7 linked regions of the Homo sapiens genome follow. The protein of the gene in region 4 purifies or fractionates together with the protein of the main gene of each other region. This does not show direct contact. Each region holds a gene or a part of one and is shown on either strand. Other genes may lie near its edges.

Region 1 (3,500 bases), on a different chromosome or scaffold from region 4:
CGCCGTGGGCTCCCAGACAGCGAGGGGACGGCAGGCCGGCGACAGGGCCTCCAAAGGACCATGTGCGAGGCAAGAGGCAAGGCTGACCGGGGGTTTGTTTTTGTTTTTAACAGGGTGGTGGGGAAGGCCTCAACATCCACCCATGCTCCCTTCCTTTCCTTTCCTTTCCTTCCAGAAGGGAGGATGGGAGGGAGAGGAGGCAACGAGGAGGAAGTGGGAGAGGAAATGAAGGGAAAGTGCCAGAGGCAGGGTCCACACCCATCAGGGAAGCAAACCAAGGGCGAGGAGAGGGCAGCGGGGCAGCGGGACAGGGCCAGGGCCAGACGGCAATGGGAGGGGCAGCGGAGAGGAGGAGACAGAGGCGCCGACACTCACACACACAGGTGGCTCGTGCCGCCTGCACCTGTTCGTGCCGCCCGAGTGAGCCCCGCAGAGAAGGGCTCCCCGGAGGTGGGGGACCCGTCAGGCCCAGGTAAGGAAGAAGGGGAGTGGGGGGACCGCCCAGAGGGGCTCGGGACACCCACTGCCCATTTCCGCTTCTCGGGGGCAGAGGCCTGTGTTCAATAAAAAGGAACTTCATAAAATATTTAAGGGTGAACACTCAGCTGAGAGCAGAAACTGTCGGCTAAAAATACTCTGTGATGAGGCAGGCTCTGAAGAGCCAGGGCTTGGAAGTGGGGATGGAGGGAGGCAGAGAAGTCAGGGGCCGCCGGGCAGCACTCAGCCTGGGGCTGCCGCCACCTACAGACTCTTCCAGAAACAGAAGGCAGGTGGCCAGCTCCCTGCTGAAGCCACAGGCTCTGCTGCTTCCAGAATCCAGAGAGCTCTGGTCCCTACCCCCAGCCTCCCCAGCCTCCCTTGTCTCAGAAGCCCAGAGCCTGGCCCAAACTCATGTTTGCTCCCCTCACCGCCCCACACAAGCCCGGGGGCCTCTGCCTTGGACTCTGGAGCAAAGCTGGAGCTCCATCAATGTCTTGCCTCCTTTGGGGCTCAGGCCCCTGGATAGGGAGCAAGTCCCTAGCACAGCTGGCACGGTGCTGGCAGCACGTGCAGGGCTGGGAACAGGCACCGAGCAGGCCGCAGGGCTCCTGCCCACAGCTGGGACCAGAGGCGGGGGAGATGGGTTTCGGAGGCCAATGACTGGGTCCCGGTGCTGAGAGGAAGAAAGGTACAGGGAGCCCTCCTGGAGAAGGCGCGAGTCTTGCTGTGCTGAGGAGCCTGCCGTGGACCGCCTCAGCGCCCCCTACACCACTCTCTCCCCCACCAAGGCTGCCATCTCGCGGCCCCGAATCTACCTCTCGGTCTCCCTCCTGTGCCGCCATCTCCGACTCCCTCCCCCATCCTTGATGGGCCCCTGAGCTTGGCTCAGACTCCATTGGGACCTCTGGGCCCAGTCCTTTGCCACCCCCACCCCCAGGTCCTGCCATGTCAGCCCATCCCTCAGATGGGAGGTGGTGCTTGGGCTCCGTCGGCAGCCAGGCGTGGGGCTCCTGTGGGAGCTGGAGGGTCAGGGGCTGGCTTTGTGTCTGGGTCCCTGCGTTTTGCTCCACCAAGCCAGCCTGCTCCCCGCTCCCACCCTCACGGCTTCCTCCTGACCTGGGCGCCCAGCAGTCTCTTCCCCTGGGAGGCGCCGCCCCTCCTCTGGGCACTGCCTGCCTCCGTGTACTCTATGTCCACTTCAGAGCCCACATGCGGGTCCTCCCTAACTGCCGGGCTGTGGCAACTTGGCACTGCAGCCCCAGGCACCAGGCAGAACCTGTGCACAGGTGAGCTGGCATCTCCCTCTGCTCGAGCTCCGCCCACCTCAATGCGGCCGGTGTCCGGCTGGAAGCTGCGCGCGGGGTCCTCGGTGGTGACCCGGCACTGGATGGCACACCCGTTGATGCGGATGTTCTCCTGCCGCAGGCCCAGGTCGGGTAGGCTCCTGCCCTCAGCCACGTGGATCTGAGCATGGACCAGGTCTACGCTGTAGGGCATTGGGGGGAGGGGGGAAAGGACGGGAGAAAGGGGGAAACATGAGGCGGGGGATAGACGAGGGGCACCGCAGCCAGTGGGGCGTCCACACACAGTGCGACTCCTGCCCATAGGCTCTGGGCCAGCCTGAACAGCCGGTTCCTCCCAACCAGTGGCTCCACCAGCCCCTGCCCTGCTCCCGCCGGGAGCCGACTAAACTACACAGTGCCTGGCAGCTGGAGATGGCCCGCTGAAATACCAGGACCACCTGCTCCTGCATTCCTGACTCACGGTGCCGTCCACACAGCCCTAAGCTGCTCCTCCCTGTACTCTGCCTCCTCCTTCCTTGAGGTCTGTTTTCCCCACTCCCCTAAACTCCCCCTTGGTAAAGCCTAGATTTGAAGCCTCAGCAGATCTCTAGGTCAGAGGGCCAGGATAGCACATTCTTGGGGCCATATGTGCTATGCTGTGTGGGTGGTTGTGAGGGGGGCAGTGTGCAAGGGAACAGGTGCTGTGAAGGCTGGGCTCCTCGAAATGGTAACCACAGCTGTGAGAGGGTTGCACAGTGGGTGCTGGGTCAGGACCTGTCCTTCTGAGGCCTGTTTTCCTGCTGGACTTGTGCCCAAAACCCCCTAGAGATGCTTGGAGAGTGCAAGCTTCCCCACCTCTGCAGGGTTTTCCAAGCTCAGCCTTACTGCTCCTAAGGGCAGTCACAAGTCCAAGTGGAACAGCTGTTTAAAAAACAAAACAAACAAACAAAAAAACCAGGCTGGGCACAGCAGGTCATGCCTGTAATCCCAGCACTTTGGGAGGCCAAAGTGGGTGAATCCCACGAGGCCAGGAGTTCGAGACTAGCCTGGCCAACATGGTGAAACCCTGTCTCTACTAAAAATACAAAAATTAGCCAGGCCTGGTAGTGTGTGCCTGTAATCCCAGCTACTCAGGAGGCTGAGGCAGGAGAATCACTTGAACCCGGGAGGCAGAAGTTGCAGTGAGCAAAGATTGCACCACTGCACTCCAGCCTGGGTGACAGAGCAAGACTATGTCTTAAAAAAAACCACTCAAGGTTTTACATGTATTGCCACTGAGGCTTGTGGTGAAGGCAGCCTGGAACCTACACTGGCAGGATTTCCCCGTGTTCTTGCTGCCTGCTGGCCCACTTCGCAGCAGAGATGACAGCTTCCACTCAGTGCCACAGGCCAGGCTGCACTCCTCCCATGCTTCATCTCCACGACGGTGTGCTGAGAGCCCTGTCATTCCCACCAGAGGAGGAGCTCGAGGGTCAGAGAGGTTGGAGCTCACCCAGGCTCCACGTGGCTTGGGACCTGAGAGCACCTGAGCCCCAATCTGTCTGACACAAAACCCGTGCTCCACAGCAGACAGACTCCCATCCCTAACAGGACGCTCTAAGCAGACCCAAGACCGAGGAGTTCACAGCAGCTTGAGGGGAAGAGTCTCACTCGGCCAAAGTGTTGGCCTTGTCTCTAAGCTTCTCCTAAGGGGAGGGAGGGGCCTCCATGCCCCCGGCGAGCCACAGCAGCCACCCC
Region 2 (3,500 bases), on a different chromosome or scaffold from region 4:
TTTAAGGTTTTTGATTTAAGAAGAGAACCCAAATATCACTCTCAAAATCTAACCAAGAGGCCAAAGGACCCAAGTGTGTCCCAGGTCTCTCCATGCTGCTTCCTAGTTCACTCCTTACTTGCAGAAGTCAAGGGTGAATCAAACTGAGAAGAGTCTAAGAGGATAAATAGAGAAGAACAATTCTACCAAACTTCCCTGGATCCCATCCTGAATTTTCACTTTGATTATTATTCTCAACCTCTCTTACTGCCCTCAGAAAGGTGTCAAACCCCATTTCAAAGCCTGCATAGATGTTGATGTCAGATGTCCGGGCACAATTCACTATGGGCTTGAGAATAGCCTCTTAGGTTCCTGTTTTTAGCCAAAAATGAAAACCCATCTTTACAGAGTGGAGGATGTCTAGCAAAAGTTGCCGTTTCCTTGGGAAGCCGGTCTGAGCAGCACTCACCTCAAAAGCTTGGAAGGTAAGTCCCACGTGAAACCCCTCTGAAACCGTAATCCTCCAGACACATTCCTTGGAAGGTCTGTAGTCATCCGGATAGTTGGGAGATTGAATCTGACCGGCATCTTTGTTCATGTCTCCCCCGCAGGTAGCTTTAGAAAGAGACATCAGGAGAGGAAGACGGGGGCCCTGGTCAGATCTTACTTAGGAAGGAAGGTTGGGGAGGCGGGGGGAACAGCGCTTGCCACCACTAGGTGGCTCCGCTCACCAACATTTTCATCTCCAGCCCACAAACACCGCGCCTCCAGAAAGGCACGATTGCATTTGTCTTTAACTCTGAATTTTTTTCATATAAAGAAAAAACCACATAAAGCAGTGGTTCTCTAACTTCGCTGTGCATCAAAATCGCCTGAGGGAGTTTGCAAACTGTGGAAGCTGGGGCCACACTCCCCAGAGGTTCTGATTCCAGTGGGTGTTGGGGAGCGCTGCGTAGCCGTGAAGTTCCCCAGGTGATTCAAGGTAGAGAGTACAGGACCGCTGGTAGGAAAGGACCCGTGCGCGCACACGTGCACACATGCGCACACATGCACATTACTTATTTTACAAAGACAAAACTTTGGCCTCTCTAAAATTGTAATAATTTAAGGCCGAAGGACCCTTGGTAATGTAAGGCCAAAGGACCCTTGGTAATTTTCTGGTAGTTTTCCCCTTTCTTTTTTTTTTTTTTTTTTTGGTAGAGGGTACGGTGGGGTGGGGAATGAGCCAGAGAAGCTCAAGACATAGAAGAAATAGAAGCACCATCACCTGGTGGCAGCTGCCTAGAGCCCAGACCTATTGGTTCCCTCTACTCAGCCACCAGGGTAGCCTCAGAGGCCCTTCTAAGAAACGCAGTTGGAAATTCCTTGATGTTGCCCAAAGTCTTCTTTTCACAAAGGAAACAAACAGAGGCCTAGAGAGGTCAGATTCTTTGCTTAGGCTCACACAGCAATTCAGAGGCTGCTATCATTTCCACAGGGTTCTAGATCCCCCCAATACCGTCCTGTATGGGGGAAGCCGACTCCTCAGCTGGCCTGGAATGAGGGTTGAGTGGGATGGCGTCAGAAGGATGGCACTACTTCTGAAGTGGGCACAGCTGGCCTCTGCTTCCAGAATGTTGCAGGAGGGGCTGTGGAATCCTCAGCTTGCCCCCTGTGGTGGCTGCCCCCACCCCTGTGGCTCTGGCCTGGAGTGTCTGGGCTGGGAGAGGGACAGTGGGCTGCCTGGGAAGGACAGAGCTTATGAGGGGCCACCGAGCAGCTGCTTTCACCTCGCACAAACCTTCGTACGCTGCAAAGAAGCCCTTGCCCAAGATGTTGCTGCTGCTGCGGAACTCCACCCAGAGCCGGCTGTCCGTGGAGACGAGGGGCTCCGGGATCTTATCGCCACAAAACCTGCCTGGAAAGTGGAAAAAGAAGCAGTTAGGAGCCCTGGGGACAGCAAGAAGGCACTGGCTTCAGGCTAGGAGGAAGCTGAGGTTCTTCACACGTGGTTTGAAGTGAGCAATAACCCTGGCTGGGACAACTTATCCTGTAGCACACACAGGATCAAAAGATGGGATTGGAAGAGTCACACAATAATGTGTGACTTAATTCTTTTTCAGGCTGACTTCAGGAGAATTCCAAATTCCCATCAAAGTATCCAGAGAAGAGCCCAGGCAGCCTCTCCCCTGCCGAGGGGTGTTGCTGAGGCTCTGAAGGTGAGGCAGGGGAAGAATGGTGAGAGAATAGAGCAGATTTCCTTTCCTGGTGTTTCCTGTTGCATGTATACCCTTCCCTTTTGGGGGCATTAGACATCTGCTTTCCTTGACTTGGGAAGGGATGCCAGGGAAAACACAGCAAAGAAATAAAACCATCTTGGCGTTTACATTTCACAAGCCTAGTTGCAATAGCAAAGATTTGGAAGGATGCACCATATTTTCCCCATCCTGGTAGCCGTAGGAGGGTTCCTAGGATGGAGGAGTGACAGGACTAGCGGGAGAGCAGCAGGGAGCCCCTAAAAGGACCCATTCCCCATCTCACCTTGAGAAAGAGATCCCAGGTAGGTTTAAGAATCTAAGAGAAGCAGAAAACTGTGTCCTCAGTCCTTGGGCAGAGTCCAGAGTGGCAGCAAGACCCTGGATTCCCCTGTTGTGCCCACCCGCCAAGGTCAGCATAGAAGTGTCTATGTGATTGTCCAGACATTTGGCCCTGAGACAGGCATGCAGAGCTCTTCAGGCAAAGTGTGGCAGGATGGCAGCAACATGATTCCAGGCCCAAGAGGGGGATGGAAGTGACTTTCCCACAGCTGAGAGGATTAGGGGAGCCATAGAATGTCTCCCAAGCTTCTAGGGGAATGTAGACCTGCACCATTCTGAACTGGCCTAGGGTTGATAAAAGGAGGAAGCCCAGTAGCCTGTATCTGGATAGAGGACTCATTGGTTAGGGATGAGAACATCCCAGCAATGCCAGTCAGGGTGGCAGGATAGATGCCCCCCGCCACCACCATGCCTTGGCATAAACTATGCCCCCAACCAGGACATACAAATTGACCAAAACTGAAAACACAAATTGACCAAAATCAAGTCCCTACTACCTGATGGAAAGGGGGATCATCATAGACAAACTTTTGTTATCGAGAAAAAAAATTAATACATTTGTATTTTCTTAGACACTTGGGTGCATGGTCTGAAATCTGGAGCCTCCACAGAGGCCTGGTCTTCCCAGTACCTGGTCATTCTTGGCCATCTAATCCCTACTGCCACGTCAGGATGGCAGCCCAGGGCGAGGTGGGAGATGGGTTCATCTTTACTGAATGGTTCAGAACACAGGCCAGCCACGGTCTATTTGGACTGGAAGACCATGGTTCTACCAAGCACCTATTGCATGAGTCACTTGGAGAATGTATTTAGCTTTGGGGGGCAATGGGGAATGGGAAGTGGCTGCTAATGAATATGGGTCTTCTTTTGGAGTGATGAAAATATTCTTTTTTTTTTTTTTTTTTTTTGAGACAGAGTCTTGCTCTGTCACCCAGGCTGGAACAC
Region 3 (3,500 bases), on a different chromosome or scaffold from region 4:
CAATACATGCGGCAAGGGACTCACAGCTCCGCCCCGAAGCTGCAATGTATTAGTGAGTCCTCCAGGCTTTCCCCTAATTTCTCTGATGTGTAAAATGGGGATGATCCCAGTTATGTGACAGGGTTGTGGTGAGGACTAAGTAAGTTATCTGAAGATTCTCACATGGGGTCAGCGCTAGCTGGGATTACTCTTGTAGGTGACCAGCAAGCATCGTAGGTGGTCTGCAACAAACGAGTGCATGTCATCTCATAAATGCCCATGTATTTCTGCAGTCCTTTAACTCTACAGAGTTTCTCTTACTTGCCATTATTGTAAATCATCTCTGGAACGATGAGGTATGGAAGTATAGGGGGAGGTTTTCCAGAAAGGGAAACTGAGGCTCAGCTGTTGAGGAAGGTTCCATTAGGTTCCTTATGATCCCAGAGATTTGTGAAGAAGGTGATCAGAGCTCAGCCAACCCCTGCTTCCTCTCAACAGGAAATCCCTTCTTGGTCATGGTGCTGCAATCTCCTTGTCCTGCCAGCCTGGGCTATCTGATCTTCCCCTCACTCAGGTCGGCTGAGGAGAGATGGGAGGCTGCTCTGCCTGTAGCATATTCCATTCTGGGCTCAATTCCTGCCAGGTGAGACTTGATACCAGACTTCCCCTGCTAGAGCTTGAGCCAGGCCATGTCCCTGGCAGGATCCCCCAGGAAGGATCCAAAAACCACTTCCCTGGTATTTTCAGCTCTGACTCTTTGGAGAGAAGCCTATCTGGATATTCACAGCATCTTCTCCAATACCGCAGGTGCAGGAAATATCCGGAAGTCTCAGGGCTGCTCAGGGGTCTCTTTGCTTGGTGACATCACCTGACTACCGTTGGCAAAAGAAGGTATTTGAACTTTCAGACCAGACTAGAGGATGAAAGAAATCTATTTGAGCTTTTTTCCTGCTTCTATATTAATAATGTCATCAATGACAATAACAAAATGCTGTCAAAATGGGAACTGACAGGGGGTGCAGGAAGGGAATGATAATTTCTCACTGAGAGGATTTCCTCTGTATCTCCTATTTGTATAGGAAAAAGAGTTACTGAAATTTGTAACTAGAAGAGAAAAAACATTGTTTCCATGGGTCAAAAGGATGTATGATCCTTTTTAAAATCCTTACAACAGGCGGTAGGAGCTATGATTGTTACCGAGCTTGGATTAGGTAACCTGTTCAACGTCATGGACTAAGAGGAAACATAGCCAGGATCTTAATCCAGACAGTCTGACTTCAAAGCCTGAGCTCTCTTAACCAGAATCCATAATTGCCTCCTGGATCAGCTAGTCTCATCTCCTTGATGCTCAGCTAAAGAAGCTGGAACTCGGGCACACAGAGGTTGTGCGGTCTGCCCTTGATGCCTGAGCTGGCCAGCAGCAGAGGTGGGATTAGGACCCGCTCCCCATCATGCCCATCTGGCGGCAGCCTGCCTTAAGTCAGCACACCTGCCTTCGAATGTGGCGGCTCTGGCTCGTGGTTCCTGCAACTACCAAACAGCATGACACAAATAAGAGAAGAGGAGGCAGGAATACCCTTCTAACCCGCCTGCCTGCCCTGCCAGGACTTCTTTTTTTGTTTTTTGTTTTGTTTTGTTTTTTGAGACAGAGTCTCACTCTGTCACCAGGGTGGAGTGCAATGGCGCGATCTCGGCTCACTGCAACCTCCACCTACCGGGTTCAAGCGATTCTCCTGCCTCAGCCTCCTGAGTAGCTGGGACTACAGGCATGGGCCACCACACCCAGCTAATTTTTGTATTTTTAGTAGAGACAGGGTTTCTCCATGTTGGCCAGGATGGTCTTGATCTCCTAAGCTTGTGATCTGCCTGCCTCGGCCTCCCAAAGTGTTGGGATTACAGGCGTGAGCCACTGCACCCGGCCTCTGCCAGGACTTTTTAAACTACAAATTCTCCGGTCTCTCCTTTGTGTGCATGGTTGTTTTTTTTTTTTTCTTTTGGAGACCGAGTCTTATTCCGTCACCCAGGCTGGAGTGCAGTGGTGCAATCTCGGCTCACTGCAACTTCCGCCTCCCAGGCTCAAGCAATTCTCCGGCCTCAGCCTCTGGAGTAGCTGGGATTACAGGCATGTGCCACCATGCCCGGCTAATTTTTGTATTTTGTAAAGACTGGGTTTCACCAGGTTGCCCAGGCTGGTATCGAACTCCTGACCTCAGGTGATCCGCCTGCCTTGGCCTCCCAAAGTGCTGGGATTACAGGTGTGAGCCACTGCGCCCGGCCCTTTCGTCCTATTTCCCCAGAAAAGCACATTCCACTTGCTGATCCCTGAGAAGGAGTGGGCAGCCCTACTTTCTGGGTCTATTTGGTAACAGGACTCCATCATCCTGACCAGTGTCCCTCCCGCTTTCCACTCCTTGCACCTCAGACTCCCTGGCAAGGTTCTGGGGCCCCCTCTTCTTCCAACCTTCACAGGGAAGGGTGAAAGTCCCCTCAGATGCTAAGCCCAGGCCAGATGGAAGCCTGACTCCCAGCCTTCCTCCTTGCCCAGGAATCTGTTGGGATGACGTACTTCATGTGGCCTAACACCTAAAGCAGATGCTTAGCTGGGGAAGAGCCTACAACAGGGACTGCAGGCAGGCTCCTGAGGCTCAGGACCCAGGATAGGGTCCCCAAGACGGGAGGTTGTTATAAGGCTCCTTCTCCCACAAGCTTCCAGGAATCTCCAGCCTACCTGGAAGAACTGGAGCATACTACATCCAGGGCCAGGATCTGGGCCACGCAGAGGGTGTGGCAAGTACCCTGGGGAAATAGTGTTTGCTAGGGTCCTCGTCTGTAGTTTTAAGTAAGGAGTAGGTAGGCTCTAGGATAGCACAGAATTTAAGAACAAAGGCTCTGGAGCCAGTGTTACCCATGTTCAGATCCTGGCTTTGCCTCTGCTGGCCACATAACCTTGAAGGGATTTACTTAACCTCTCTGTACCATAGTTTCCACATTGGCAAGCTGAATAAAATGATAGTATCTACCTCAAGGGACTGTTGCAGGGAATAAATGAGTGAAAGGTTTCAGAACACAGTGGGCTGAACTTTCAGTTTCTCTCTTGTGGCTGCAATTCCTGGCTCTATGTCTGCCTTGCTCCACCTGAAATCTACTCCACTCCTGAAGACCCAGGAGTTGAGATTGTTCTCTTCTAGATGTACCTATGGCCTAGACAGGTCAGGTGACTCCTCTGGGGCTTGCAAGTAATCAGCCAATCAGTGGGAGAGCACTGATTAGCAGGACATGGGGCAGGGCCTTCACAAACACCTGGGCAGGGGAGTGGCCTTGGCCAAGACACAGATTCCTGTTTTCCAGGGGATGGTGGAGGAGGCTGACTTCTGACAACTCAAGTCAGCAAACAATAGGCCTAGGATTGAGGTTTACTCCAAGTGCAATGGAGGTAAAGGGTGGATGAGGGAGTGCTCGTTGTCCCCTTAAGGTTGGGGCTGGGGGTGGCATGAGGGAGGGAAGACTTCGCACAGTGAGGG
Region 4 (3,500 bases):
GAAGTGTTTATATTTCATTGTTTTTGGAGGATTTGAGGCACTTTATTTTTTGTTGTTGTTTTTTGAGACGGAGTTTTGCTGTGACGCCCAGGCTGGAATGCAGTGGCACGATCTCGGCTCACTGTAACCTCTGCTTCCTGGGTTCAAGCGATTCTTCTGCCTCAGCCTCCCGAGTAGCTGGGACTATAGGCGCGTGCCACCACGCCGGCTAATTTTTGTATTTTTAGCAGAGGTGGGGGTTTCACCATATTGGCCAGGCTGGTCTCGAACTCCCGACCTCAAGTTATCTGCCTGCCTTGGCCTCCCACAGTTCTGGGATTACAGGTGTGAGCCACCGTGCCCGGCCTGAGACACTTTAACATTATCTTTTTCTTTGTTATTTCTGTGCTTTCTCATATTTACCAGTTGTCTTTGATTTTGTACTTTTTGGGGGATGGTATATAGCTTTCCATGGAATAGCTGGGACCATTTTTTTTTTTTTTTTTTTTTTTGAGACGGAGTCTCGCTCTGTCGCCCAGGCCGGACTGCGGATTGCAGTGGCGCAATCTCGGCTCACTGCAAGCTCCGCTTCCCAGGTTCACGCCATTCTCCTGCCTCAGCCTCCCGAGTAGCTGGGACTACAGGCGCCCGCCACCGCGCCCGGCTAATTTTTTGTATTTTTAGTAGAGACGGGGTTTCACCTTGTTAGCCAGGATGGTCTCGATCTCCTGACCTCATGATCCACCCGCCTCGGCCTCCCAAAGTGCTGGGATTACAGGCGTGAGCCACCGCGCCCGACCTTATTGTCTCTTAAAGCCTTTCATTTAAAGTTCTAAATATTGTCTTGTAACATAAACAGCAGTATTTTTGCTGCCAAATTTCCTTACAAGTCTCCTGTTTGGGGGATGTGTTCTTACTGGCTTTTTATTAGTTAATCCTGTCCCTGTATGGATTATTTTGAATAGTTCATAGCCCAATTGCTTTTTATCATTTCCATAAATTCTATCCAACAGGTCAAATTTTTGAACATTCTAATAGAGTCCTTTGAAAATGTGTTGGTCATCTAAAAATTAGTTTGAGAAAACAGTTTAAAAGAAAAAAAAAGGAAGCTTATAATTAGGTTGCTTCTTTTGTTATGAATGAAAAGTAGATTCCTAAATGCAGTCATGTTTATTTTTGTCATGTTTATTATTACATTTATATAAAGTAGGGAGTCTTTAGTATATTTTTCCTTTCATAGCTAGAATCAAAGATAAAAGCGAATACTGACTTCCTCCAGCTAATCAGTCATATAGTCAGATTTACCCTCCCAAGTCTTCAGAATAATGTCTTGATCCATTAGAATACTGTGTTCCAAACTGTGTTTAATGAGCTTTATGAAGCTTCCATGATAACATGAGCTTCCTTGAGGCCTCTTTTAAGGTAGGCTTTGAAAAAAAAAATCTGATACTCTTATCTTTGCTTTTGCTATTTCTACCTTCCACAGCCATGTTTGCTTTTCGTTCATTGCTCTTTCTGTTCTATCTTGATATCTTTCAAGGTCTGAGATAGCAATTTTGCTCTCAGTGGAACTATTATGTATATCATCATTTAACACCATTTAACAGTTGTTAATATTGCCTTGTGACATGCATTCCTAATTTTATTATTGCTTGTCTCTTCAACTAGCCTTTTGAAGGGTCTTAATAATTTGTTTCCACTCGTTTCCCTCTTTAGCCTAACAGTGTGCCATTATACCTTTGTAATACTTGTGCTATTTATTTATTTATTTATTTATTTATGTTTTTTGAGACAGGGTCTCGCTCTGTCGCCCAGGCTGGAGTGCAGTGGTACCATCATGGCTCACTGCAGACTTGACCTCCTGGGCTCAAGTGATCCTCCTGCCTCCCTTGCCTGAGTAGCTGGGACTACAAGCATGTACCACCACGCCTAGCTTTTTAATCATTTTTTGTAGAGATGAGTTCTCACTATGTTGCCTAGGGTGGTCTTGAGCTCCTGGGCTCAAGCGATCCCCCTGCCTTGGCCTCCCAAACTTCTGGGGTTATAGGTGTGAGCTACCGCACCTAGCCTGCTCAATAAATACTTAAATAATAGAAGACTGGCTTGAATTTAGAGTGCTTTATCACTCCCAGGTTTTTCTCAATAGAGATCCAGAAGTTAGGACTTTATGGCATAAAAATAGATCCACAGTTTCCAGAGGTTAAAAACTGCTTACCTGCTATTTTTCTATGAACAACAATACTTTTATCTTAATATCCAGCTCTTTTTGCATGTATTATTTCAATACCTTATGTTTGGAGAAAGGATGGTCTTTGAGTATCTCAGTTTAGGGTACGAAATGAATAGGATATAGGTTAACAGCTTAGGAAAAATGCTTTGTTGGGGAATTATCTTTTGTTAACAAAGATTTCTTCTTTTGTAGTTGATGGAGAACCTTGTGACCTGTCTTTGAATATAACCTGGTATCTGAAAAGCGCTGATTGTTACAATGAAATCTATAACTTCAAGGTAAGGAACATAAAATTACAGAGTTTTTTTGGACCTTAGTGATTATCTGGTTCCAGTCTCTTAATTTCATAGAGGAAAGAGTATCATGTAGCTATGGAGGAGGAGAGCTGAAACTAGAATGCATGCTTCCCAATTTGCAGACCACCAATTCTCAAACTTTTTGGTTTCAGAACTCTTATATTTGTAAAAATTATTGTGGACTCCAGAAAGCCTTTGAGCATGTGGGTTATGCTATTAGAAATTACAACTGAGAAAATATAAAAATATTTATTAGTTTATTTTAAAGTAGCAATAATAAACTTATTGCATGTTAATATAAATAACTGTTTTTCCCAGAAAACCACACAGAAGAGTAGGATTGTTTTGTATTTTTGTAAATTTGTTTACTATCTGGCATAACAGAAGATCACTGTATTCTTATATTCCCTCCTTCACTCAGTCTGTTGCAATAATTTGGCTTAAGTACATGTAGAAAATAATGACCTCATACAGATATATAGTTGGGAAAAGGAATGGTATTTTAATGGCCTTTTCAGATAACTGAGGATATTCTTTTTTGATTCTATACCAAAACTCAACAAGTGGAAGTTTTTAAAGGTTAGTTGCAATGTGGAATCTGAAATATTAATGAACTTTTTTTGTACTCTGATAAGAAATCCACTGATATGAATGTATCTTTTACCTGTGTGTGATCTTGTAGCATCATTTATTGGTCATTTAGAAAATAGCAGTTGACTGAATTATATACATTTTTATAAATATTAACTCATTTCACACTTAGCTAAAAATTACATTGTTTATAACTATACCCTGCCCTCTTCATCTCATCAGTAGGTTCTTAAGTTTTGGAAGCCGTTAAATTCAGTGTAGCAGATACAAGTTCTTCAAAATTCCAGTTTTTGCTTGAAATCTCAAATTTTATTTTGGCAGTGAATACTGTCAGTTGTCTTCCTTGAGGGGACAGCCTCTGTTGCCCATTTCCAGAGAAATAACTCTCAAATAACCAAGTCTGA
Region 5 (3,500 bases), on a different chromosome or scaffold from region 4:
AGCGGAAGGTCTGCTCGTGCTGGGTCACGTTGTGGAACGGGCAGAACTCATACTTGTACCTGGGGACACAGATGGCATGAGGGGGGTCCGCAGGCTGCGCCCCAGCCCACCCTCGCACCCACCCTGCACTCACGTGGACTCCACCAGGCTGAAGCACTTGCCCGAGAGTCGGAAGAGATGCACGGGTCCTGGAAGAGACCTCACACTGATCCCCAGGGTCCAAGCACAGAACCTGTCTGCAAAGACTGGCAGAGTCTGTTTTCAAAGGACCAGTTTTCTTTTTTTTTGAGATGGAGTCTCACTCTGTCACCCAGGCTGGAGTGCAGTGGCATGATCTTGGCTCACTTCAAGCTCCGCCTCCCATGTTCACGCCATTCTCCTGCCTCAGCCTCCCAAGTAGCTGGGACTACAGGCGCCCGCCACCATGCCCGGCTAATTTTTTGTATTTTTAGTAGAGACGGGGTTTCACCGCGTTAGCCAGGATGGTCTCGATCTCCTGACCTCGTGATCCACCCACCTCGGCCTCCCAAAGTGCTGGGATTACAGGTTTGAGCCACCGCGCCCGGCCAAGGACCAGTTTTCAACAAAAAGCACAAGACGTTCAAAGAAACAGGAAAACAGGTACCATTCAATGGAAGAAACTGACAAAACCGAGAATTCTAAAAATAGCCCTTCAAAAATTAGAGTTAAGGCTTGCTATCGTGGCTCATGCCTGTAATCCCAGCACTTTGGGAGGCCAAGGCGGGAAGATTGCTTGAGGCCAGGAGTATGACACCAGCCTGGGCAACACTGTGAGAACCCCGTGTCTACACAAAAAGCACACAGAAAAAATGAGCTGAGTGTAGTGGCGCGCACCTGTAATCCCAGCTACTCAGGAGGCTGAGGCAGGAGAATCTCTTGAACCCAGGAGGTGGAGAGTGCAGTGAGCTGAGATCGTACCACTGCACTCCAGCCTGCGTGACAGAGCAAGACCCTGTCTTCCCCACCCCCCAAAAAAGAGGACATTCCCAGATAAAAGCTTCAGGAGTTGGTTACATGCAGGCCGGTGTGCCACCCGGGGAAGTGAGCAGACAGCAGCTCAGCGGAGGCAGACGGAGGTCCTCGTGCAGGGTGAATTAATACCAGTTGCCTTTCTAGCTATGGTCTGTAAAGCTACAGGACTTAAACCAGTGGTCCCCAATCTTTTTGGCACCAGGGACTGGTTTCATGGAAGGCAGTTTTTCTACCAGCCGGGGGTGGGGATGGGTGGTTTGGGGATGAAACTGTTCCACCTCAGCTCATCAGGCATTAGATTCTTTTTTTTCTTTTGGAGACAGTCTCACTCTGTCACCCAAGGTGAAATGCAGTGGCGCGATCTCGGCTCACTGCAACCTCCGCCTCCTGGGTTCAAGTGATTCCCCTGCCTCAGCCTCCCGAGTAGCTGGGATCCCACGTGCCCGCCACCACGCCCAGCTAATTTTTGTATCTTCAGCAGAGGCGGGGTTTCACTGTGTTGGCCAGGCTGGTCTGCAACTGTGGACCTGAAGTGATCCGTCCACCTTGGCCTCCCAAGTGCTGGGATTACAGGTGTGAGCCACTATGCCCGGCCTGAAAGACTAACTTCAGATTTAAAGACATAAACAGGTTGAAAGTGAAGGTATGGAAAAGTATTCATATAAACAGGCAAAAGAGAGCTGAAGTGGCTGAAACTATTTTAAGAGACAAAGATGTTATACATTGATAAAAGGGTCAATGTGCCAAGACACCACAATTATCCACGCACAAACAGTGCCACCCACTACATAAAGCTGACATGAGACATCCATACGCCACTTTTTTTTTTTTGAGACGGAGTCTAGCATTGTCGCCAGGCTGGATTGCAGTGGCACGATCTTGGCTCACTACAATCTCCACCACTGGGTTCAACCGATTTTCCCGCCTCAGTCTCCCCAGTAGCTAGGATTACCGGTGCCTGCCATCACGGCTGGCTAATTTTTGTATTTTTGTAGAGACGGGGTTTCTCCATGTTGGCCAGGATGGTCTCAAACTCCTGACCTCAGGTGATCCACCTGCCTCAGCCTCCTAAAGTACTGGGATTACAGGCGTGAGCCCCAGCGCCCAGCCTGATGGATTCAATATTTTTAAGATGACAATACCACCCAGAGTGATCTGCAGATTCAATGCAACCCCATCAAAACCCCAATGACAGTTTTTGCAGAAATAGAAAAACACATCCTAAAGTTCATAGGGAGTCTCAGAGGACCCCAAATCATCGAACAAATCTTAAAGACAGAGTTGAGAGACTCGTACATACTGATTCCAAAAATTACTTCAAAGCTGTTATGATCAAAACAGTGTGATACTGGCATAAAGACTGGCATAGAGGCCGGGCGCAGGGTCTCACGCCTGTAATCCCAGTGCTTTGGGAGGCCGAGGCAGACGGATCACGAAGTCAGGAGATCGAGACCATCCTGGCCAACATGGTGAAACCTGATCTCTAATAAAGTACAAAAAAATTAGCCAGGCGTGATGGCGGATGCCTGCAGTCCCAGCTACTCGGGAGGCTGAGGCAGGAGAATTCCTTGAGCCTGGGAGGTGGAGAGGTTGCCGTGAGCCAAGATCGTGCTACTGCACTCCAGCCTGGGCTACAGAGTTAGACTCTATATGGAAAAAAAAACAAACCCATCAAGGGAGTGAAAAGACAACCCACAGAATGGGAGAAAATAAACACTGGCAAACCACGTATGTAAGAGACTCACATCCAGAACACAGAACTACAGCCCAACAATAAACTCAAGTTAAAAATGGGCAGAGAAGCCGGGAATCCCAGCACTTCGGGAGGCCGAGGCAGGCGGATCATGAGGTCAGGAGTTTGAGACCAGCCTGGCCAACATGGTGAAACCCCGTCTCTACTAAATAAAAATGAGCCAGGTGTGGTGGCTCACGCCTGTAATCCCAGCTACTTGAGAGGCTGAGGCAGGAGAATCGCCTGAGCCTGGGAGGCAGAGCTTGCAGTGAGCCAAGATGGCGCCACTGTACTCCAGTCTGGGCCACAGAGTGAGACTCCATCTCAAAAAAAAAAAAGGACAAACACCATAAGCAACTGAAAAGATCCCACATGACTGATCATTAGGGAAATGCAAATTAAAACAACCCTAAGGTACCGCTTCACACCCACTAGGATGGCTGTTAGCAAAAAACAGTGTTGGTGAAAATGTGGAGAAACTGGACCCCTCGTGCAATGCTGGCTGGAATGGGAAACGGTGCAGCCACTATGCAAACAGTTTGGTGGTTCCTCAAAAAGCTAAACATGGAATTCTAATAAGATCCAGCAAAGCTACTCTCAGAAATTGGAAGCAGAGACTCAAATATTTACACCCAAGTTCACAGCAGCCTATTCCCAGGCAGAGGGTGGAAGCCACTCCAGTGTCCATGGACAGATGACGGGTAAACAACAACGTGGTCTGTCCTTGCAGTGGAACAGTCCTCAGCCATATAAAAAGGAAGCACTGAGAGCCTCC
Region 6 (3,500 bases), on a different chromosome or scaffold from region 4:
AAATACCCAGTCACTGGAAAGCATTTGTTATAAAATAATGAGCGTTGGAAAGCCTGGAATGGAAAACATGAATCTGAGGTTACCCCTGGATCGCTCAGCCAGCCGGATAAACAGAGATGTGGAAGTATCGGACGTTTGTTTAAAGAAGACAGGAAGTGGGTTCTAAAGCCCAGCATTTGCTAACTTCACTGCTGTGGCTCTCATCGCCCAGAGCAAGCTGCAGAGAACATTTGACTCTGTGCTGTCTCCTGATCCAGTTACCCCAAAAGGAAATTTTCAATTGCATGGAGGTGAGATGTGTATGAGATGGGACTTCCTTTCTCCTATAATTTCTAGAATAACAGAAAAGTTGGAAGGGAGGATAACAGTTATCAATTTCAATGACTCCCAAACCTGTCACTTTGCAGACTTCCAAAAGAGACAGAGTCCTGGGCTCCAGCCCAGACCTTTTAAACTAGATTATGGTGGGTTGAGGTCTGCGCTATTCTGTACTTTTAAGCTCCCTTGGGCGATTCTTACGCAGTCAGCATGGCATTAGCCCTTTAGTCCAGGACAGGAGTATAGGCAGCTCTGCTTTAGTCCAGTAGCCAGACTTGTGCTGAGGTCTGGGCTGCAGCTCAGCCGGGCGGGAGGGTGTGGGAGCTTCCTTTGCCTGGCTGACCCAGAGATAGGAAACTCTTAGCTCCTGGAAAAATGTTTAAAAAGAAACAATTCCCTCCACCCTTATCTCTTTCCTATTTGGGAACATACACTGTCAGGGTTTCAGGGGTTCTTAGCCCAACTTCCAGATGGGGAAAATGAGGCTGGAGAGGACATGCGTCTTCCTACAAAGTGTGGTGTCAGAGGTCAGTACAGACTGAGCTCTAGGTTCAGGGCTTCAAACTTTGTCCTGCCTCAAAGCTGTTAAAGCAATTTTTTGGGTTTTTGTTTTGTTTTTTGTTTTTTTGAGATGGAGTCTCGCTCTGTCACCCAGGCTGGAGTGCAGTGGCGCGATCACGGCTCACTGCAGCCTCCGCCTCCCGGGTTCAAGCGATTTTTGTGCCTTAGCCTCCTGAGTAGCTGGGACTACAGACACTCGCCACCATGCCCGGCTAATTTTTGTATTTTTAGTAGAGATGGGGTTTCCCCATGTTGGCCAGGCTGGTCTCGAACTCCTGACCTCAAGTGATCATCCCGCCTCCGTCTCCCAAAGTGCTGGGATTACAGGTATGAGCCACTGCGCCTGGCCAGCTCTTAAAACAATTTTTAAAAATAAACTAATAAATTTGAACCTCACAAGGGAGGAAAGAATAGGCTAACCAACGGTGAAAAACCCAAAGCATCTGTGTGCCTATTGTGACCAAGCCCACAATAGCAGGTTAGTGTGAAAACGATGAACTCCACATGCCAGGAAGGTGGGGGGCGTCAGGGAGCTCCAGCATGTGGGAGCCATTGTGAGGAAGAGCAAGAGGCTTTCCTAACAGGGAACGATTTGGAGTAAAGCGCAACTTCCTCTGGGCTGACGCAGCCCCCAGGCAGGGCATATGGGGCGGAGAGAGGAGCACAGGCCGATTTCACCCCCTACCTGGGGTCACCAACTGTCCTGGTTTTCCTGAGGTTTTCCCAGGATGTGAGACTTTCTGTGCTAAAGCCAGGAAAGTCTTGGGCAAATCAGTATGGTTGGTCACTTACTGTGCCCCTCCTCAAGCCCCCCGACCCCGCCTTCCTGCAGGGTGCAGCCTGAGTGGGCACAGAAGGATGCCAGTCCCTGGATGGGCATCACCAAGAATTTACACTTCGCAGTGCGTGCAGCCTCCTCTCCCAGGCTGACCTCAGGGAAGGCCACTCCGGGCCTTGCCAGGTGACAGCACTCAGATCCAAAGCACAGAGCGTTTACCTTCTCCCTTGCCGTAGGAGGAGCTGGCAGTCCAGGACTTGGCCTCCACGTAGCCCAGCTCCCGGCAGACGACGTGGGCAGCGTGGATGGAGAAGTCGTCATCGCACACGGTGCCCCACTGGCCATCATAGTACACCTCCACCCGGCCCTCGCTGTGCTTCCTCTTCTGCCCAGCCAGGCGCAGCTGAATCTTGGCCACGTTGGCGGGGGCCTGGGGCTGGTGATACTCAGGAGCCGGTTGCTGGAAGTACTCGGGGTAATGGGGCCAGCTGTCATACTGTGCCAGGCTCAGGGGGGACAGGAGGGCCAGCATAGCCAGGCAGCTGCAGAGGTGGGAGCACAGAGGCCTCTCCATCCCTGTCTTCGGGCTGATGATCCCACGAAGGGGCCCTGCGCAGCTGGGAGGGACAGGCGGGGTACAGAAGCAGCAGGAGCTTTCTGGAAGAGAGGAGAGATGCGTTAGGATGGGAACGTGGGGCTACGGAGACCTACATAGAGAACCAGCGATTTCATACCCCTTGGCTTAATATGGAAAGCTCGTCCATTCTCGACGCCAATCCAGCCCCACTCCTACATTTCCACCATGCAGGGCTGGGAGGTCCCACCTCCTTTACCTACTGCCTTGTCATCTCTCTAGAATGCTTTTTCCAGTAGAGTTCCTGGCAGGGAACAGAACACACTCCAACTTAATTTAAGGAGAGTTTTTTAAGACTACGGACATGCCGGCAGAGTTCTGCAGAACTAACAAAGGCCGGTGTCACACCCTAGGGCTGGCGACTCAGAGGGGGCTGTGACCACCCTAGGCTTGAAGGGAGCCTGCGGGGGTGAGAACTGGAGACTGGCAGAGGGAGCTGTCTCTTAGGAGCTGTGGCCCTCACTGGAGGGTCTCAGAGCCAACCCATGGCAACGGCGGGGACATGGGAGGGAGAATAAATACCTGACTCCCTTTCCTCCCGTCTTTGAATCATTCTGGTGCCTCCTATTAGGCAAACCCAGCCCCCTTCAACTCGAAGCCACTGGCAAGGGAGCTGAGCCCATTGAGGGAGCCCGTGTGGGACAGCCTCCTGGAACATGGGGGCCGGTGGAGAAGGAGCGGGTCTGAAGGGGTGAGGGCAGGATGTTCAACACACCCACCCTCCATTAAATGAATGGCACCCCAAAACACTACAGGAACATTTGCTAGATGAATTATAATTTTCCCGTCAGCTTTGAGGGCTGCAATGCTAAATGAGTTTTAAAATCCTCAAGGTCCTGGTCATCGTATCTGGTGGAGCCTACCTCTAAGAATTCCCGAGTGAAATCATGTAGCAAGAGACCTCGTGTATCTTGGTCCTCCCGTAATTCAGAGAAAAGAGGAGACGATTTTAAAAGGAGCACACGTGTGTCTTGTGGAGAAACATGCAGGGCCCCAAACCAGGATGAGCAGGTGGAAGCTTAGGTGGGGGCATAAGGTATTTTATTTTAACCCTATGCAGAGGAGTAGGCTAATCATATTCTTCTGGTCATGGCACACTACCTTTGAGGAAGGACTGGCTAACTTTCCTGTAGTCAGAGCTGTCCAGAGCTGCCCATGGAGGGATGATCTGCCTTGGAGTGAGGCAGTTCCATGTCTGTTGGGTGACCA
Region 7 (2,751 bases), on a different chromosome or scaffold from region 4:
CTACAAATTCTTTATATAGACAAGTCATGTTCCTGCAACTTTACTTAGTCCTAGTTTTCTTTATATATTAGTATCTTATGCTTGGAGTTTTGAAAGTTACATTCATCAGTACTGTCCATTTGAACAAACAGCCATGGAAATACAAACTTCTCAATCACTGCCAGCAAGAAAATAATGATAAATATTTCAGATCCATAAAGATACTTTTTAGATATGGTATGGGAAGACAGGGATATAACTAGTATACCAATCTAACTGGAAGAACAGCAAGTCAGAGATCTTATGACAATTAACTTCAGATAGTAAATGAACACTGTATGTTGAGGGAAAAACCTCTATGGGCCTACTTAAGTGCAGTAGCCAAGAGGCCCCTGAAGAGATATGTGACTTTGCTAGGTAATTTCCAGATGGTACATCTTTAGGAAAGGGAAATCAATAAGCCCTAAAAAGTACAGAAAAGGCTGATTCCCCACTTCTGACATTTTGATAGTCACATCAGTTTTTTGGTAGAACATGGTATAAAAAACAAAATTTCAACAAATTTAAAGAACAAATTGGCTTTTATTTAGTGATTCCTGAATTGGGCAGCAACCCCTCTAAAGATTTAGAAAAGGCATTCTGATGAGCTGAGCAGGGGAGGTGGGCTTTATAGGCAGAAAAAGGCTGATGAAAAAGTCCCAGAAACATGGAACAAAAAGCAGATTCGTCATTATAGTGTTACTTTCTTTGTCCAGTAAAAACAGAGGAGACTTCCTTATGCTGGTTCAGGTAAAATGAGCCCCTTCGGATTGGTTATTGTGATTCTCTTTTTTTTTTCTTCTAAAGTTCAGTTTGATTATGGGGCACCTACTGCCAGTGACCCCATTCTGGTTTGATGTGGTCTGTTGAGCCTGGTGTAGGAACTCAGTTCAAAACAATGGCCTCCCATAAATTTCATTTGACAATGGCCAATGAACAAGCAAGAGATGCCCATTACTCATCAGGATGAAAATGTAAAGACTTCCTTTTTCAGCCAAGAATCCTCCACTCTTCAAGTGAAGGGGGTTGGCCAGTTTGGCCCCCAAAGTATTATTTTGATAATAATTTTGCTATTTGTAACTGGGAAGGAGCCTTAGGGAGAAATAAATATTACTTATGGCTTTAGCACATATTTTATGTACTAAATGGGGACAAAGGATGAGTAAAACCCTGAATCTAAAAATGCTGCTTAAAAATTAATTCATAGAGTAGTGAAGCTGGCAGACATTTTTTAGAAGCTGTAAGAAGCATCAATTTTACAGTCACAGCTTCGTTGAAATCTCAGTTCTGCTACTTCTTAGCTGTGAGACCTCACACAGGTATCCAAATTTCTCTCATAGACTCCTCTGTAAAATGAGGATAATGGTACTATCTTGTGGGGTTGTGGTGAACATTAAATAATACATGTAAAATGTCAGGCTTCATAAGATAGGTGTTAATCCTTCAGAACAATGAGGTACAATGAGGTGTTGACTTCAAATTGGGAAAGATAACCATGAGTACTGAAAGATGCCCTGATCAGAGAAAACTGGTTTCAGTCATGAGACCCAGATCAAAAGCCTTAGGACACTTTCTCTGAAATTCAGCTGCTGATCTGCAAAGAGGCTGTTCCTCACATGGGCAACCTTTTGTAGATCGTCCTAGCATGAGAAGCAGCAGATATTCATTTATTTAACAAGGATTATTGGATATCTTGAGCAATGCTACATAGGGCAGTTCATTACACATAATATTACACTTAAAAATATATTAACAAACTTACCAAAGAGTTGAGGCAATATTGATGCACCATCCGAATAGGCTATATATTTCCAGTGGTTAGTTCGAAGCATGTAGGTGGAGGCATTCACATTACATCCATGGAATTCACTCAGAATCCAGGGTGGATGCAGGTTTTTGACTTTATGTTCATTCTTAAATGTTTCTGATGATAACGGCAACAAAGAGTATCCACTCAGGTTCTGAGGCAGAGGAATTCCAGCAATATCTATGTAACAAAAATAACCAAATATCTTAAAATAGCTCATTCTTTTATTAGCTGAACATTCACAAATAGCATCATTCACATTTTTTTCATACCATTAAATGCCATGGAGACTGGAGATTGTATATGGATTTTGTAAACAGGCTGCCAAAATTCACATGCTTACCCCACTGGCCATGTGGACTTCAGCAAGTAATTTACTTATCTCAACCTCAGTTTTCTCATCTGTAAGAAGGGGATGACCACAGTACTTGTATTTATTAGGTTCATTTTAGGTTTAAATAAGATACTTTATGTAAAATTCTAAGAACTCTGAGGACAATGCCTGGCAGATAGGAGCCTTCAACAAATAGTTAATATCACTATTCCTTTTTTCTCTAAATGATTAAATAATCATAGTTGTTTCTCAAAGTTTCTTTCATGGGATATTAACAAGTCTTATACAAGAAAGGGGTTTAGTAGTCTTATATGTTTGCAAAACAATGGTTAAACAAAATTAAATACATAAGTTTGTTGTAGATGTAAATTTATTGCTGATGTATATGATAAACCTTCAGGAGTGGTATATAGTATACTATGTGCCCCAAAGTTATGTGATAACAGAGCTTTTTACATTCTCAAGTAGCATCTTGAGGGACTAGCATCTTGAAAAACATGCTTTCAGGAATTGTGGATTATATTTAGGAAGGGAAAAATAATTTTTAACTTACCAAATGTAGACATATAGAACAACAGCATGAGAAATGTTC

What was found.
Region 1: the proteins of TMEM87A (region 4) and PC purify together in Homo sapiens (affinity purification with mass spectrometry; one large-scale study listed by BioGRID and IntAct). This does not show direct contact.
Region 2: the proteins of TMEM87A (region 4) and TLL2 purify together in Homo sapiens (affinity purification with mass spectrometry; one large-scale study listed by BioGRID and IntAct). This does not show direct contact.
Region 3: the proteins of TMEM87A (region 4) and OAF purify together in Homo sapiens (affinity purification with mass spectrometry; one large-scale study listed by BioGRID and IntAct). This does not show direct contact.
Region 5: the proteins of TMEM87A (region 4) and GNPTG purify together in Homo sapiens (co-immunoprecipitation; one large-scale study listed by IntAct). This does not show direct contact.
Region 6: the proteins of TMEM87A (region 4) and LOXL2 purify together in Homo sapiens (affinity purification with mass spectrometry; one large-scale study listed by BioGRID and IntAct). This does not show direct contact.
Region 7: the proteins of TMEM87A (region 4) and ARSK purify together in Homo sapiens (affinity purification with mass spectrometry; one large-scale study listed by BioGRID and IntAct). This does not show direct contact.

Annotation. Positions count from the first base shown.
Region 1 is NC_000011.10:66,864,384-66,867,883, forward strand, and holds part of PC (pyruvate carboxylase, mitochondrial precursor), read right to left. Parts: intron 1,967-3,500; coding exon 1,804-1,966; intron 1-1,803. UniProt on the Homo sapiens protein: Pyruvate carboxylase catalyzes a 2-step reaction, involving the ATP-dependent carboxylation of the covalently attached biotin in the first step and the transfer of the carboxyl group to pyruvate in the second.
Region 2 is NC_000010.11:96,395,427-96,398,926, forward strand, and holds part of TLL2 (tolloid-like protein 2 precursor), read right to left. Parts: intron 1,877-3,500; coding exon 1,760-1,876; intron 595-1,759; coding exon 449-594; intron 1-448. UniProt on the Homo sapiens protein: Protease which specifically processes pro-lysyl oxidase. Required for the embryonic development. Predominant protease, which in the development, influences dorsal-ventral patterning and skeletogenesis.
Region 3 is NC_000011.10:120,221,032-120,224,531, reverse strand, and holds part of OAF (out at first protein homolog precursor), read right to left. Parts: intron 1-3,500.
Region 4 is NC_000015.10:42,266,934-42,270,433, reverse strand, and holds part of TMEM87A (transmembrane protein 87A isoform 1 precursor), read left to right. Parts: intron 1-2,401; coding exon 2,402-2,487; intron 2,488-3,500. UniProt on the Homo sapiens protein: Potential monoatomic ion channel gated by mechanical force, implicated in normal touch sensitivity through the generation of mechanically activated currents.
Region 5 is NC_000016.10:1,358,431-1,361,930, reverse strand, and holds part of GNPTG (N-acetylglucosamine-1-phosphotransferase subunit gamma precursor), read right to left. Parts: intron 189-3,500; coding exon 134-188; intron 60-133; coding exon 1-59. UniProt on the Homo sapiens protein: Non-catalytic subunit of the N-acetylglucosamine-1-phosphotransferase complex, an enzyme that catalyzes the formation of mannose 6-phosphate (M6P) markers on high mannose type oligosaccharides in the Golgi apparatus.
Region 6 is NC_000008.11:23,366,121-23,369,620, forward strand, and holds part of LOXL2 (lysyl oxidase homolog 2 precursor), read right to left. Parts: intron 2,315-3,500; 5' UTR 2,232-2,314; coding exon 1,877-2,231; intron 6-1,876; exon of another isoform or gene 1-5. UniProt on the Homo sapiens protein: Mediates the post-translational oxidative deamination of lysine residues on target proteins leading to the formation of deaminated lysine (allysine).
Region 7 is NC_000005.10:95,600,101-95,602,851, reverse strand, and holds part of ARSK (arylsulfatase K precursor), read right to left. Parts: intron 2,006-2,751; coding exon 1,781-2,005; intron 1-1,780. UniProt on the Homo sapiens protein: Catalyzes the hydrolysis of pseudosubstrates such as p-nitrocatechol sulfate and p-nitrophenyl sulfate. Catalyzes the hydrolysis of the 2-sulfate groups of the 2-O-sulfo-D-glucuronate residues of chondroitin sulfate, heparin and heparitin sulfate.